2 separate regions of the Homo sapiens genome follow, and region 2 is linked to region 1. The links come from fine-mapping of genetic effects on gene expression. Tissue or cell type: whole blood. Region 1 holds a variant in brackets; the other region holds the start of a gene. All regions are shown on one strand. Distances are between the middles of the regions.

The links. PIP is the estimated chance that this variant, and not a neighbour inherited with it, causes the effect.
Region 2: LINC02604 starts here. The variant in region 1 is fine-mapped to the expression of LINC02604 in whole blood (TOPMed, PIP above 0.99).

The regions. Positions count from the first base shown.
Region 1 is chr7:66,841,082-66,849,267 of GRCh38, reverse strand. It overlaps the pseudogene GTF2IRD1P1 and the pseudogene GTF2IP23. Among named protein-coding and RNA genes, the nearest start is that of LINC02604, 59 kb to the left of the region's middle. RefSeq lists enhancers at 1-350, 3,811-4,312, 4,379-4,498, 4,313-4,813 and a silencer at 4,679-4,788. The variant G/A (reference allele first, on the strand shown) is at 3,955.
Region 2 is chr7:66,900,276-66,908,434 of GRCh38, reverse strand. It overlaps LINC02604 (long intergenic non-protein coding RNA 2604), which reads right to left and starts at 4,315. Exons shown (of 1, transcript NR_136637.1): 1 at 2,138-4,315.

The DNA.
Region 1 (8,186 bases):
TTTAAGACCAGCCTGGCCAAGATCGTGAAACCTTGGCTCACCTAAAAATACAAAAATTAGTGGGGCATGGTGGCAGGCGCCTGTAATCCCACCTGCTCGGTAGGCTGAGGCAGAGAATTGCTTGAACCTGGCAGACGGAGGCTGCAGTGAACTGAGATCATGCCACTGCACTCCAGCCGCGGTGACAGGGCGAGACTCCATCTCAAAAAGAAAAAAAAAAAAAAAAAAAAAAAAAAAAAATATATATATATATATATATATATATATACACACACACATATATATATACACATGTGTATATATATACGCGTATATACACACGTGTGTATATACGCGCGTATATATATACGCGTGTGTATATACACGCATATATATATATTTTTTTCAGTCAAATCCCTAAGATCTAGGGCTTTGCAATAAATATATAAAGAAATCCCAAATATCCACACTGAAAGTATAAAAGAAATGCTAATTGATAATTAGAGAACTACAACTTTTCCTTAGCTTTCAAGTAATCTAGAAACAAAGAAACTTTCTAATATTTAGACAGACACTACAAAGTACCTTACAAGGAAAGACGTGTAAGGATGGCATGACTCACCAGCAGCCCTGGGTTTGTCCACAGTACCCCCATGATGAAACAGCAACTCCATTGTGTAAATGCTCATGAACAAACTATTACAGGACTTTTCCAGTTTAGACACACTGTATTTTCTTTCAGACAATTCTTCAACTTGTTTACGTAGATCAGTGATACGACTATTCCATTTTTCTGAAAACTGACCAGAAGTTGATTCTCAATAATACATCCCTATACCACAGCAGCAATAACATATAATGACTTATTTCCTGTATTTTACATCCTAACAGATCATATCATTTTACTGCTTTCAAAAAAATTGTTCCCCTTTTTGGTGGTTCTTAGAATTAGTTTAATGGGAGACTATAAGAGAAGTTTTAAAGTTTAGTACCTCTTTTCAGCCTTTTAATTTATGAAAAGCAGGAGTGCAGAAAAGATCAATCAAATTAAACATGACAACAGGGAGGCCACAATGAGGAGGTCTCCAGGGGTCTTTTAGCAAACTTCCTAAAACATGTCTCAGCTGTATGGAAGTAATATTTTACAGTGGTGGTGGTGCAGGCCTGTAATCCTAGCATTTCAGGAGCAGAGGCTGGGCAGACCGCTTTGAGCTAAGGGCAATACAGTGGAAAACCCCCTCCCCTCCCCCACCCCCCAGTCCCACCCCGTCTCTACCAAAAATACAAAACCTAGCCAGGCTTAGTGGCAGGCGCCGGTAGTCTCAGCTACTCGGGAGGCTAAGGCAGGAGAATTCCTTGAACCCAGGAGGTGGATGTTGCAGTGGGCTGAGACTGCGCCACTGCCAGCCTGGATGACAGAACAAGACTCTGTCTCAAAAAAGAAAAAACAAAAACATAAGGTTAAGAGAGACCCCAGACCTTACAGATACAAGTTTAACAGGGACCCCAAAGCAAAAAATCCCAACCCTTTTTCTCCCAATCATTGAAACACCAGGAGGGTGTAATAGTTTTGCAGCCTAGCTGTAGTAGGCTGATGCCCCCAAGATGCCCACATCATAATCCCTGGAACCGGTGAACATGACCTTATATGGCAAAAGGGGCTTTGCAAGTATAATGAAGTTAAGAGTCTTTGGCCAGCTTGTCCCCACAGGGTTTATGTACTCACCTGGATCCTTATAAGAGCAGAGCAGGTGATGGAGAGCGGTGGGAGGTGTAGTGATGAAAGCAGGAAACGCGAGTCATTCGAGAAGGGCAGCACAAGCTGAGGAGTACAGGCCGCCTCCAGGGCCAGGAAACAGATTCTCCCGCAGAGCCTGGGAAGGCACTGACCCTGCTCCCACGTTGACTCAGTGGGACTGACTTTAGAATTCTGGCCTTCAGAAATGTAAAGGAATACCTCTGTGCTGTTTTAAGCCACTAAGTGTGTGGTAATTTATTGCGGCAGCAACGGGGAACTAGTATTGTAGTGAAGCCTCAATACCCACCTGAAGGGGCCAGGCGCAGTGGCTCACGCCTGTAATCCCAGCACTTTGGGAAGCCGAGGTGGGCAGATCACTTCAGATCAGGAGTTCCAGACCAGCCTGGCCAACATGGTGAAACCCCGTCTCTACAAAAATTAGACAGGTGTGGTGGCGCATGCCTGCAATCTCAGCTACTCAGGAAGCTGAGACATGGGAATCACTTAAACACGGCAGGGGGGCGGGGAGGGGGTGAAGGTTGCAGTGAGCTGAGATTGTGCCACTGCCCTCCAGCCTGGGTGACAGAGTGAGACTCCGTCTCAAAAAAAAAAAAAAAAAAAAAACCCACCTGAAGAAGGTTTCCAGTTCTGCCAGCAGTCCCCCACCCAACCCCCAGAAGCAGACATTCCTTTGCTGTGGGCCATGGACAGGCAGAAGGAAGTGCCTCCTCATGGCAGAGGCCTACCCAGGAGAAACCCAAGGTAAGGCACTGCCAGGCCAGCCCCTCTGCCAAAGCCATTTTCTTTTTTCTTTTTTTTGAGACACAGTTTCACTCTGTCTCCCAGGCTGGAGTACAGTGCCACGATCTTGGCTCACTTCAACCTCTACCTCTCCAGTTCAAACGATTCTCCTGCCTCAGCCTCCCGAATAGCAGGGATTATAGGAGCGTAGCATACCTAGCTAATTTTTTTAGTAGAGATAATGGTTTTGCCATGTTGCCCAGGCTGGACTTGAACTCCTGGCCTCAAGTGATCCACCTCTCTCAGCCTCCCAAAGTGCTGGGATTACAGGCGTGAGCCACCGCACCCAGCACTCGTCAAGGTCTTTGATGGCAGGTTTTTCCAGGTGATCAGTCCTTGTCTGGTCTGGCTCTGTCACACTCTCCCTCTCACCAAGTTCGAACCCCTAGCTAGTTTTCAGAGGAGGAGAGTGTGTACCCCAATCCCAGCTTGGTATGGTTCAGATCTGTATTTGGCTCAGGAAGCCTGGCTGCTCCCCAGGCCCTGGAGAAAAAAAGGGTCTCGCTGCAGGTATGATACAAGACGGGCCTGTCCCCAGGACCGTGTAAGAGGGAAGCCCAATGTGCCACCAGGTTGGCAGGGCTGGGGAAGGGAAAGTGTTATGGTAGCCCCAAGACTAAAAAGAGGCAGCAGAGGGAGCAGGACAGTGCTCCCATGGAACTCATGCCGCTGCCTGAGTGAGGTGAGGGAAGAGTGCACCCACTGACATCAGGGGGCAGAGAGGTGCGGTTCCAGCGCGGCTTTTCCTGCTTCTTGCCATGTTACTCTGATCCCCTCCAGGTGAGCCCGCCCATTTTGGGCCCAGGGTTGCCGCTGGGGCCTGTACCCAAATGCAGCCCCCCATGGCCATGGCCCCAGGAGTGCGGCAGAGCAGGGAGGAGTCCTGGAAAGAGGAGACGCAGGGGCAGGAAGGAATGGGCCTCAAACTCCAGGAGGGGGTCCTTCTCATGGGTCCTGCTTTCTGGCCTCTCCTCGCTTACCCCTGGGCTGATCCCCCTGGGAAGAACTGAGCCAAGGTTTCTCACTCTCAAATCCGAGGGATTCAATTACCGGGCCCTTAGGGAGGTGTCAGCCCCCTGAAACGATGCAAGGTGCCCGGCCTAATTTTTATATTTTTAGTAGACATGGGGTTTCACCATGTTGGCCAGGCTGGCCTCGAGTTCCTGACTTCAAGTGATGGCCTGCCTAGGGCACCGAAAATGTTGGCATTACAGGCGTGAGCAAACGCGCTCGGCCAGCTCTATTTATTTCAGCCTATACATTTTGCACTTGTTAAAAGTATTTGAACATACAATTCTGTTTTCTTTAAGCAGTCCCTCCCTGTTGCACACTTGGATAGTTTTTTTACTTTTTTAGACAGGGTTTACCTCAGTCTCGCAGGCTGGAGTGCTGTGATGGGATCATAGCTCACTGCAGCCTTGAACTTTGGGGTTCAA[G/A]TATCTGGGAAGCTGAGGTGGGACTACAGAGATGGGGTCGCGCCACGTTGCCTAGGCTGCTCTTTAACTCCTGGCCTGAAGGGATCCTTTCACCTCGGCGCCCGGATATAGTTTTCTAGTTTTGACCCACAGAAACACCGTGCTGGGTCAGAGTTTGTCAACCACCCTTCTCCAGCCAGCAACACACAGAACATGGCGGGGAAGTCGCGGTTACCAGGCACCACTCTGAAGACAAAACAGCCCAGCTCCAGGCACTGTACCGTCACTCTGACGACGCGGAAGGCCTGGCGCTATTGCGTCGCCGAGGGCCCGCGCCTGTGACGTCAGCGAAGGCGCTCCCCAGTGACGACAGAGAGCCACGCCCCTCATGTGGAACCAATCGGAACTCGAGGAGCGGCTGCCGGGTCGTCCAGAAGCGCGCATGCGCAGACGCGTGGCCACAGCCGGCCGGTCAGTGTTCGCAGGCTCCGACCCGGCGGCCAACACCAGTAAGCTACAAGGAGGAGCTTTCCCACTGCCTGTGCTACTACTACCGGCGCGACTTCCCAGCCTGCAGCGTAGGGCGCAGCAAGGGCCTGACGCTGAGCGAGCAGGCGCTGCACACCAAGCGGTTGTCGCCTGGCGGGCACAAACAGAAGGTCGGGCAGAAGCTCCTTAATGGCCACTGCAAGCCGGCTAGCTCCGGCTGCAGCCGTTGCCGCACACTCGCCTCACCTGAGGCTGGGTACGTGCGCCCCCCAACACCTCCTCCAGCCAGGGACCGGGGACCCCGCAGCGTCCCCCGCCGCCCGGCGCCGCTCATCCTGGGCAGGCTCGGCTCCCTCTGAGGCTGCCCCGCTTTAGGGAGCTGAACCCCCCATCTTGACAGCTGATGGCCGTTGCAACAACATTAAAGCCTTTGGAACTTTGTAGCGGGGGTACAAGGGGCTAGGAAACGCAGAAAACATCTTTTTAAAAATATAAGCGATCGGGCCGGGCGCAGTGGTTCACGCCTGTAATCCAGCACTTTGGGAGGCCGAGGCGGGTGGATCACGAGGTCAGGAATTCAAGACCATCCTGGCTAGCATGGTGAAACCCCGTCTCTACCAAAAATACAAAAATTAGCCTGGCGTGGTAGCGGGCACCTGTAATACCAGCTACTTGGGAGACTGAGGCAGAGGCAGAGAATTGCTTGAACCCGGGAGGCGGAGGTTGCAGTGAGGCGAGATCGCGCCACTGCACTCCAGCCTGGGCGACAGAGAGAGAGACTCCGTCTAAAAAAAAAAAAAATTGGTATTCTGATGTATATTGCACAGTGTGTCAACCTCAAATAATCAACAGGGTCAGAATCTAAAGGGAGTTTATTCATGCAGAGTTTAAGGAGGGCCACCTGGGAAGCACAGATACCCAAGAGTGGAAGACAGTGTTCCAAGGCTTAGAAGTTTGGGATCACTTGCATAGACAAAGTTTAGGGAAGCTTAGCAGAATTTCAGCATCTCTCCGTTTAAGGCTTAATACATAGTTAAAACAATCTGATTGGTCCAGGTGGTCTTTCTTTCACTCTGTCACCCAGGCTGGAGTGCAGTAGTGCAATCGCAACTCATTACAGCCTCAGCCTCCCTGGCTCAAGCGATCCTCCCACCTGGGCATCCCTAGGAGCTGGGACTACAGGCGTGCACCAACACACCTGACTAATTTTTGTATTTTTTGTAGAGACAGGGTTTCACCACATTGCCCAGGCCAGTCTCAAATTCCTGGGCATAAGCAGTCCTCTCACTTCGGCCTCCCAAAGTACTGGGATTACAGGCATGAGCGACTGCACCCAGACGAGGTGGTCTTTTTTCCGGGAAAGGTGTATTTTACCTTCTACACTGAAGATGTAAGTCATGGGGTCTTTTGTGCCATCTGGTGTGAGTTAGGTACAGAACAATAAAGGAGGCAGTTAATCTGTAACAAAGATAAGTGATTGTAAGGAGAGGACGACTAGTCTCTGGTCTCTCATAGTCATTTGCAGAATGAAAATAATAAGGAAGGAATAAATTATAATTTAAGAAGCAGAAGTTACAAACATGCTATGTGACTCGGTCAGGGTGTAACTTCCCTCTTGGCATGATAAATTTATAGAGGGTCCTGATACTTTTTTTTCTTTTATACTTGCTAGATTCTCTGCACTGTTGATCCCACAACAATTCTTCCAGGTAGATGCTGCTATCCACTTTTTTGTTGTTTGTTTTCGAGACAGATTCTTGCTCTGTCATCCAGGCTGGAGTGCAGTGGCGTGATCATGGCTCACTGCAACCTCTGCCTCCTGGGTTCAAGCAATTCTCCAACCTCAGCCTCCCCAGTAGCTGGGATTACAGGTGCCCACTACCACACCCAGCTAATTTTTGTGTTTTTACTAGAGACCAGGTTTCACTTTGTTGACCAGGCTGGTCTTGAACTCCTGACCTCAGATGATCCACCCGACTCGGCCTCCCAAAGTGCTGGGATTACAGGCATGAGCCACTGTGCCCCGCCCACATTTTAGAAAACGGATTCTAAGGCACAGAGAGTTCAAGTACCTTTCCAAAGATGACACAGCTCCTAAAGTGCTAGGATTACAGGCATGAGCCACTGCTCCCAGCCTTTTAAACTCAATTTGAATTATAAATGTGATCACTATAGAAAATATGTGTATTATTTATCTGCTGCTATGTAACAAATTACTCCAGACCTAGTGGCTTAAAATAAATACTTAGGGCCAGGCACAGTGGCTCATACCTGTAATCCCAACACTTTGGGAGGCCGAGGTGGGCAGATCACTTGAGTCCAGCAGTTTAAGATCAGCCTGGGCAACATAGTGAGACTCCATCTCTACAGAAAATGCAAACATTAGAGGATTTTGCATGTGTGTGCTTTTTCTGTTTACACATGTATGATATGAAACAGTTAAATGATAGAGAACTGTGTAACACATGGAGCAGGTGCAGTGGCTCATGTCTGTAATCCTAGCACTTTGGGAGGCCAATGTGGGAGGATCACTCGAGCCCAGGAATTCGAGACCAGCTTGGGCAACATGGCGAAACCCTTTCTCTACAAAAAATTTTAAAAAGTAGCCAGCCGTGGTGGTGCACGCCTCTAGTTCCAGCTACTGAGGAGACTGAGGCAGGTGGATCGCTTGATCCCAGGAGTTTACAACCAGCCTGGGCAGCATAGCAAGACCCCATCTCTACAAAAAATAAAACAATTAACTGGATTTGGTGGTATATACCTGTAGTCCCAGCTATTCGGGAGAATTGCTTGAGCCCAAGAGGTTGAGGCTGCAGTGGGCTGTGATTGCACCACTGCACTGGGCAACAGAGCAAGACCCTGTCTCTTAAAACAAAACATACCAAAAACTATGTAACACATGAAGGAAAGCTGCAATCACATCTTCCTCAGGCAACCACTAGTATTCCTAGTATCTACCCTTTGTATGTTTTTTTCTATGTGCTAACTCATGTGATGACTATTTTAAACAAATTGTCCTGTGTTCTCACCTGGATTTTTTTTGTTTGTTTTTTTGAGACGGAATCTCACCCTGTTGCCCAGGCTGGAGTGCAGTAGCACAACTTCGCTCCAACCTCCACCTACCAGGTTCAGCCGATTCCGTATGTGAAAACACTGATTTACAAAGCCAAAATATATCTTAGTTTTATTTCCTGTATGCCCTCAATGAGGTCGTCTCTATTTTTTTTTTTTTTTTAACAGAGACCAAGGTCTCACTATGTTGTTCAGATTGGTCTTGAACTCCTGGCCTCAAGTGATCCTCCTGCCTTGGCCTCCCAAAAGGCTGGGATAACAGGGCTGAGCCACTGCGCCTGGCTGAGGTTCTCATTAAATGAAAATAAAGGCCAGGTGCAGTGGCTTATACCTGTAATCCCAGCCCTTTGGGAGTCTGAGGTGGGTGGATCACCTGAGTTCAGGAGTTTGAGACCAGCCTGACCAACATGGTGAAACACCGTCTCTACTAAAAATACAAAAAATTAGCTGGGCGTGGTGGCAGGCACCTGTAATCCCAGCTACTCGGGAGGCTGAGGCAGGAGAATCGCTTGAACCCAGGAGGCAGAGGTTGCAGTGAGCTGAGATTGTGCCACTGCACTACAGCCTGGGTGGGTGACAGAGCGAGACTCTGTCTCAAAATAAATACACGCCCACACGAGGCTGGGCTTGGTGGCTCATTCCTGTAATCCCAGCACTTTGGGAAGGTGAGGTGGGTGGATCTCTTGACCCCT
Region 2 (8,159 bases), 59 kb before region 1:
TCTCATGTGAGTGCTCACCAAAGGGTGACCTCAGCGGAGGAGGATTTTAATAATCAAGTGGACAGGGTGCCTCATTCTGTAGACACCACTCAGCCTTTTCCCCAGTCACCACTGCCATCGCCCAATGGGCTCATAAACAAAGTGGCCATGGTGGCAGGGATAGACTTTCTCAGCAACATGGACTTTCACTCACCAAGGCAGACCTGGCTACAGCCACTGCTGAGTGCCCCATTTTCCAGCAGCAGTGCCCAACACTGAGCCCTTGATATGGCATCATTCCTTGGGTGATCACACAGCTACATGGTGGCAGATTGATTATATTGGACTTCTTCCATCATGGAAAGGGCAGAGGTTTCTCCTCCCTGGAATGGACACTCCAGATATGAGTTTGCCTATCCTACACGCAATGCTTCTGCTAAGACTACCATCTGTGGATTCACGGAATGCCTTATCCACCGTCATGGTATTCCACACAGCATTGCCTCTGACCAAGGCACTCACTTTACAGCTAGTGTGACAGTGGGCTCATGCTCTTGGAATTCACTGATCCCACCATGTTCCCCACCATCCCGAAGCAGCTGGATTGATAGAATGGTGGAATGGCCTTTTGAAGTCACAATTACAATGCCAACTAGGTGATAATACTCTGCGGGGCTGGGGCAAATTTCTCCAGAAGGCCATGTCTGCTCTGAATCAGCATCCAATATATGGCATTGTTTATCCCATAGCCAGGATTCACAGGTCCAGGAATCAAGGGGTGGAAGTGGAAGTGGCATCACTCACCATCACCCCTAGTGATCCACTAGAAAATTTTGGCTACCTGTTCCCACAACATTACATTCTGCTGGTCTAGAGGTCTTAGATCCAGAGGGAAGAAAGCTGCCACCAGGAGACACAACGATTCCATTAAACTGGAAGTTACGATTGCCACCTGGACACTTTGGGGTCCTGCCACTTTTAAATCAACAGGCTAAGAAGGGAGTTACAACCTTCTGGGATGATTGACCCAGACTATCAAGATGAAATCAGTCTACTACTCCACAATGGAGGTAAGGAAGAATATGCATGGAATACAGGAGATGCCCTGTGATTAAGGTCAATGGGAAACTATAACAGCCCAACCCAGGCAGGACTACAAATGGCCCAGACCCTTCAGGAATGAAGGCTTGGGTCACTCCAGGAAAAAACCTGCTGAGATGCTTTCTGAAGGCAAAAAGAATACAGAATGGGTAATAGAAAAAGGCAGTCATCAATACCAGCTATGACCATGTGACCAGCTACAGAAACGAGGACTGTAATTGTCATGAGTATTTCCTCCTTTTGTTAAAAACATGTTTGTGCATATATAAGCTTGTACTAAGAATATTTCATTTCCTTTTTCCTTTATTGTGTGAATAACTTATATTGACTTCATATAAGCATCTAAGTGTTAGTTTTATATAAGGGCATTTGGGTTCAGGATTGGTGCATTTCCAGTTGTATGAAGAATACTTTTATTATTATCTTAGGCACAATTATGACCTTATTATTATCTTTATTTGAAGATTATGTATAATTTCAGAAGATGTGTATGGGTTAAAGTTGACAAGGGGTGAACTTGTGATGGTTAATATTGACTGTCAACTCTATTGGACTGAAGGATGCAAAGTATTGTTCCTGGGTGTGTATGTGAGGGTGTTGCCAAAGGAGATTAACATTTGAGTCAGGGGGCTGGGAAAGGCAGACCCGCCCTTAAACTAGGTGGGCACAATCTAATCAGCTGCCAGTGTGGCAAAAATAAAAATGAGGCAGAGGAACATAAAGAGGTGAGACTGGCTTAGCCTCCGAGCCTACATCTTTCTCCCATGCTGGATGGTTCCTGCCCTAGAACATCGGACTCCAAGTTCTTCAGGTTTGGGACTCAGAATGGCTTCCTTGCTCCTCAGCTTGCAGACAGCCTATTGTGGAACCTTGTGATCCTGTGAGTTAATACCCCTTAAGAAACTCCCTTATATATATACATCTATCCTAACAGTTCTGCTCCTTTAGAGAACTGTGACTAATACGAAGGGTGACAATAGAGGAATTTATATGCTAGACTTTTATACTTTACCTCAATTTTCATTACCTTTTGAAGAAAAAATGTTTCACATAATAATCACATAACAATAATTTATTCAAATTTATTAAGGCAGGAGCTGGGCCTAAAGAGGGTGCTGAGAGGCAGGAGCTGGGCCTGGAGAGGTCAACTGAAGGAAATTTTTGGCCTAAGGAGGCTGCCAGGAAGCAGGAGCTGGGCAAAAACAGGTTGTTGTTAGGCAGGATTTGGGCTCATAGAGGCAGCCAGGAGGCAGGAACTGGATCTTTATAAAAGGGGCAACGTAAGGCAGGAGCAGGGCCTGCAGAGTCTACCAGGAAGCAGGACCAGGGCACAAGAGGCTGACATGAGGCAGAAAGTTGCCCTTGGGAGGCCACTGTGAGGCAGGACTCTTGAAAGGACGCAAAGCTGGGCCTGTAGTGGCTGCTAAAAGGCAGGAACGTGGTCTGGAAGGCCCTGGTGAGGAAAGAGTTGGGCCAAAAGAGGCCACTAGGAGGCAGGAGCTGGGCCTCAGGAGGCTGCCATAAAACAGGAGCTGGGACTCGGAAGGCAGACATGAAGCAAAAGCTGGCCTTTGGAAGGCTGATGAAAGGGAGAAGCCGGGCCTGGTGAGGTTGACTTGAGAAAGTTTGGGGCCTGGAGAGATCCATGGGAGGCAGGAGCCAAACTTGTAGACGCTACTGGAAGGCAGGAGGTGGGCCTGGTGAGGTAAACATGAGGAAGTTCTAGGCCTGGAGAGACAAGTCGGAGAAAGGAGCTGGGGGTAAAGAGGCTGTTGTAAGGCTTGAGATAGGCCTGCAGAGGCGGCCTGGAGGCAGGAGCTGGGCCTGGAGATGCCAAATTGAGGAAGTTTTAGGCCTGCAGAGGCCGTGAAGAGAAAGGAGCTAAGCCTGGAGAGACCGATGAAAGGCAGAAGCTGGGGCTAGAGAGGCCATTGGCAGGCAAAAGCTGGGGCTAGAGAGGCCATTGGCAGGCAAAAGCTCGGCCTCTGGAGGCCGCAAGGAGACAGGAGCCGGGCCTGGTGAGGTTGACTTAAGGATGTTTTGGTCCTGGAGAGGCCGGGCCTAAAGAGGCTGTTGAAAGGATGATGCCAGGCCTGTAGAGGCCAACAGAAGGCAGGAGCTGGGCCTGAGAAGCCCAAATTAAGAAAGTTTTAGGCCTGTAAGTTCCCTAAAGAGGCAGGAGCTAGGCATGCATGGAGAGGCTGCTGTGAGGCAGAAGCTGGGCCACTAGAGGTTGCCAAGAGGCAGGAGAATGGCTTGAAGATGTAGCAGTGAAAATGAGCTGAGTCTAAAGAGGTCATTGTTAGGCAGAAGCTGAGATCCTAGAGGACACTCAGAGGTACAAGTTGGGCCTGGAGAGGTCGACTGGAAAAAATTATTGACTTAAAAAGAGCACCAAGGCAGTAGCTGGGCCTGGAGTGGACACAGGAAGGCAGAAGGTGGGACCTGGGAGGCCGCCATTAAACAGGAGCTGAGTTTATGAGGCAAAAGCTGGGCCTTAAAAGGCTGACCAGATGCAGAAGCTAGGCCTGGTGACGATGACGTGAGAAAGTTCTGGGCCTGAAGGGACAATGCAAACGCAAGAGCTGGGCCTAAATAAGCCATTCGAAAAATGGAGTTCGGCCTCAAGAAACTGCAGAAAAGCAAAAGCTGGGCTTGGAGATGCTGCAACGAGGCAGGCACAAAAATGGTCTAGCAACTGGAAACAGCTCTGGGCCTGGAGAGGATGCCGGGAGGCGAGAGCCGGGTCTGGAGAGAGGCCGCCCACAGGCAGGAGCTGGGCCTGAGGCGGCCAAGCCGAGGCACGAGCTGGGCCCGGAGGGGCCACTGTGGGGCAGAGGCCGTGCCCCCAGGGGCCTACGCCAGGCAGGAGCTGGGCCTGGCGAGGCCGACTTCGGGCCGCCTCGGGTGGGCCCGCACAGGCCATCAGCGGGAGGCAGGAGCTGGGCCCAGAGGGGCCGACGTTGAGGAAGGGAGCCTTGGGCTGGGAGACGCCGTCGGGCTGGGCGGGAGCCGGGCCTGGAGAGGCCGCCGCGAGGCACGAGCTGGGCCTGGAGGGGCCCGCGTGAGGCAGGAGCCGGGCTCGTGGAGGCTGCCGGGAAGCCGGCACGAGCATGGCCGGGGAAGGCCGCCACGAGGCAGGAGGCAGGCCTGGAGAGCTGGACCGGAGGAGGCTTCGGGTCTACGGAGGCCGCTGGGAGCTGGGCAGGAGCCGAGTCACAGGAGGATGTTCAGAGGCAGGAGCTGGGCCCGCGGGCGCAGCCACGAGCAAGGAGCTGGGCCCGGAGAGGAGGCCGGGAGGCGGCCACTGGGCTGGCAGAGGCCGACTTGAGGAAGTCCTGGGCCTGGAGAGGCTGCCAGAAGGGCAAAGGTGGGCCTCAGGAGGCCGCGGCGAGGCACGAGCCGGGCCTAAAGAGGCCATTGGGACGCAGGAGTCAGGCCCGCGGAGGCCACCGAAAGGCAGGAGTGTGGCCTGGTGCAGGCCGTGGTGAGGCACGAGATGAGCCTAAAGATGCCATCGGGAGGCAGGAGCCGGGATTGTCGGGGCTGCCGCGAGGCAGGCGGAAACGTGGCCCAGGGAGGCCAACGTGAGGCAAGAGCTGGGCCTGGAGAGGCCGCTGTCAGGCAGGAGCTGGGCCTCTCCATGCCACCGGGGAGCCAAAGGCAGGGCCTGAAAGGCCTGACTTAGAGGATCCTGGGGTTTACAAAGGCTGCCAGGAGCTGGGCAGGAGCTGGGCCGAACGTGGCTTTTGCGAGGTAGGAGCTGGGCCGGCAGGCACAGCTGAGAGGGAGAGTTGGGCCTGGAGAGGCCGGCTGGAAACAGTACTGGGCCTGGAGAGGATGGTGAGAGGCAAGAGCTTGGCCCATGGAGGCTGCCAACAGGCAGGGCAGGAGCTTCGGCTGATGTGGCCACGCTGAGGCAACAGCTGGGACTGGGGGGTTCCACTTTTAGAAGGCAGAGGCCGTGCTTCTAGGGGCCTATGACAGGCAGGAGCTAGGCCCGGCGAGGCCGACTTCAGGATACTTTGGGTCTGCACAGGCCATCAGCGGAGGGCAGGAATTGGGCCCTGGATGGGCCAACTTGAGAAAGCCTTGGGCCGGTCGGGGTGGGCGGGAGCTGGGCCTTGAGAGACCACCGTCAGGCGTGAGCTGGGCCTAGAGACCCCAGTGTGAGGCAGGCGCCGGGCTTTTTGAGGCCGCCGAGAGGCTGGCAGGAATACAGCCGGGGAAGGCCGCCGTGAGGCAAGAGCTGGGCCTGGGAAGGCCGCTGCGAGGCCACAGGTGGGCCTGAAGAGCTGTGCTGGAGGAGGTTTCGGGCCTACAAAGGCCGCCAGGAGCTGGGCACGAACCGAGTCAAAAGCGGCTGTCTGCAGGCAGGGGCTGGGCCTGGAGGTACAGCCGCGAGAGTGTGCTGGGCCTGGAGAGTAGGCCGGGAGACAGCCACCAGGACAGGGGAGGCTTGCCAATTTGGGCCTGGAGAGGCCGCCACGAAGGAAAAGCTGGGCCTTTGAAAGAGGCCATTGTGAGGGACGAGCCGGGCCTAAAGAGGCCGTCAGGACGCAGGAGCCGGACCTGCGGAAGCCGCCGAAAGGCAGGAGCCTGGCCTGGGGGAGGCTGCAGTGAGGCATGAGATGAGCCTAAAGAGGCCATCAGGAGGCAGGAGCTGGGTCTTTCGGGGCTGCCGCGAGGCAGGGGGAAATGTGTCCCGGGGAGGCCGACGCGAGACAAGAGCTGGGCCCGGAGAGGCCGCTGTCAGGCAGGAGCTGGGCCTCTCCAGGCCGCCAGGGAGCTGAAGGCAGGGCCTGGAAGGCCTGACTTAGAGGAGCCTGGGGCCTACAAATGCTGCCATGAGCTGGGCAGGAGTTGGGCCGAACGTGCCTGTTGCGAGGCAGGAGCTGGGCCGGCAGCCACAGCCGGGAGGGAGAGCTGGGCCTGGAGAGGCCGGCTGGAAACAGTTCTGGACCTGGAGAGGATGGCGAGAGGCAAGAGCTGGGCCTGTGGAGGCTGCCAACAGGCAAGGCAGGAGCTTGGCCTGAGGTGGCCATGCTGAAGCAAGAGCTGGGTCTGGGGGGGTCCACTGTGAGGAGGCAGAGGCCATGCCTCTAGGCGCCTACGACAGGCAGGAGCTGGGCCTGGCGAGGCCGACTTCAGGACGCTTTGGGCCCACACGGGCCATCGGCGGGAGGCAGGAACTTGGCCTGGAAGGGCCATCTTGAGAACGCCTTGAGCCGCGAGACGCTGTTGGGGTGGGCGGGAGCTGGGCCTGGAGACGCCACTGTGACGCCTGAGCTGGGCCTAGAGAGGCCAGTGTGAGGCGGGAGCTGGGCTTGTTGAGGCTACCGCGAGGCCGGCTAGAAAATGGCCGGGGAAGGCCGCTGTGAGGCAAAAGCTGGGCCTGGGAAGGCCGCTGTGAGGGGAGACTGGGTATGGAGTGCTGGACTGGAAGAGATTTCAGGCCTACAAAGGCTGCCAGGAGCTGGGTAGGAGCCGAGTCAAAAGAGGCTCTTTGGAGGCAGGAGCTGGGCCTGTAGACACAGCTGCGAGAGAGGACTGGGACTGGAGAAGAGGCCGGGAGGCAGCAACTGCGGTGGGGGAGGCCGACTTGAGGAATTTCTCGGCCTGGAGAGGCCACCAAAAGGGAAAAGCTGGGCCTAAGGTGGCCGTTGTGAGAAATGAGCTGGGCCTAAAGAGGCCATCAGGATGATCAGGACGCAGAGCTCGGCCTCTGCTGCAGAGGCTGCTGAAACGCAGCAGCTTGGTTTGGCGAGGCCACGGTGAAGCATGAGATGAGCCTAAAGAGGTCACTGGAAGGCAGTAGCTGGACCTGTCAGGACATGACGCTCAGGTGGTTATGCGAGCGATGGGGAGGGGCTATAAATACAAACGAATTTTCCCCTCACTTTGCTGCTCACCACCAGCTCTGTGGCCCTGTGGTGGAGACCCCTGCTCAGGTGCATTTGAAAGGTTCCGTCCCATGCCATTCTTCAGAGTCATCTTTATTGCCACAGTGGTGAAGCATAGCATCCGTTAACTCGCATGGCATATGCCTTGGCTAGCATTTCATCACAATAAACAGTAAGTGGTAGCTTCACTCATTGTGAGGACACTTCCTGGAAATCACCAGCATCCCATGTCCCATTGGCAAGAAACTCAGCACTGCTCCTTGGATAACCAAACCAAGGCTGAAATCCCATGTATATGTGTCTATCTCCTGGTACTCTTCCTAGCATCAATTCTGTATTTCTAGGAGTCCAATCAAAACATATAAACCGCTCAAAAGTTTAAACTGGAATGCGCACGGTGGCTCAAACCTGTAATCCCAGCGCTTTGGGAGGCCAAGGCGGGTGGATTACTTTGAGCTCAGGAGTTGAGACCAGCCTGGGAAACACGGCAAAACCCTGTCTCTACAAAAAGCACAAAAAAAGCACAAAAATTAGCCAGGCATGCTGGCACATACCTGTAATCCCAGTTACTTGGGAGGCTGAGGATGGAGAATTGCTTGAGCCTTCGAAGTGGAGGTTGCTGTGAGCAGAGATCATGCCTCTGCACTCCAGCCTTGGTGACAGACTGAGACCCAATACCAAAAAAAAAAAAAGTAACTTTAATATAAAAAATATTAATTATAACAGAGGATCAGCATAATGAGTGACACACTAGCACTAACTACAGACAATTCTAGAGAATACAAAACTAGCAGAGGCCAGGCATGGTGGCTCATGCCTGTAATCCCAGCAATTTGGGAAGCCTAGGTAGAAGGACTGCTTGAGGCCAAAAGTTGGAGACCAGGCTGGGCAACTTAGTGAGACACTGTGTCTACCAAAAAAAAAAAAAAATTAGCCAGGTATGGTGGTGGTGCACAACTGTAGTTCCAGCTACTTGGGAGTCTGGGGTCGGAAGATCCCTTGAACCTGGGAAGTCTAGGCTGTAGTGAACCAAGATCATGCCAGTACACTCTCGCCTGAGCAGCAGAGTGAGACCCTGTCTTAGGGAAGGGGAGGGGAAGGGAGGAGAGGGGAGGGGAGAGGAGGGGAGAGGAATGCTAATCCCCCTATAAGAATCTCCTCTTCTCCTGCCCTCTC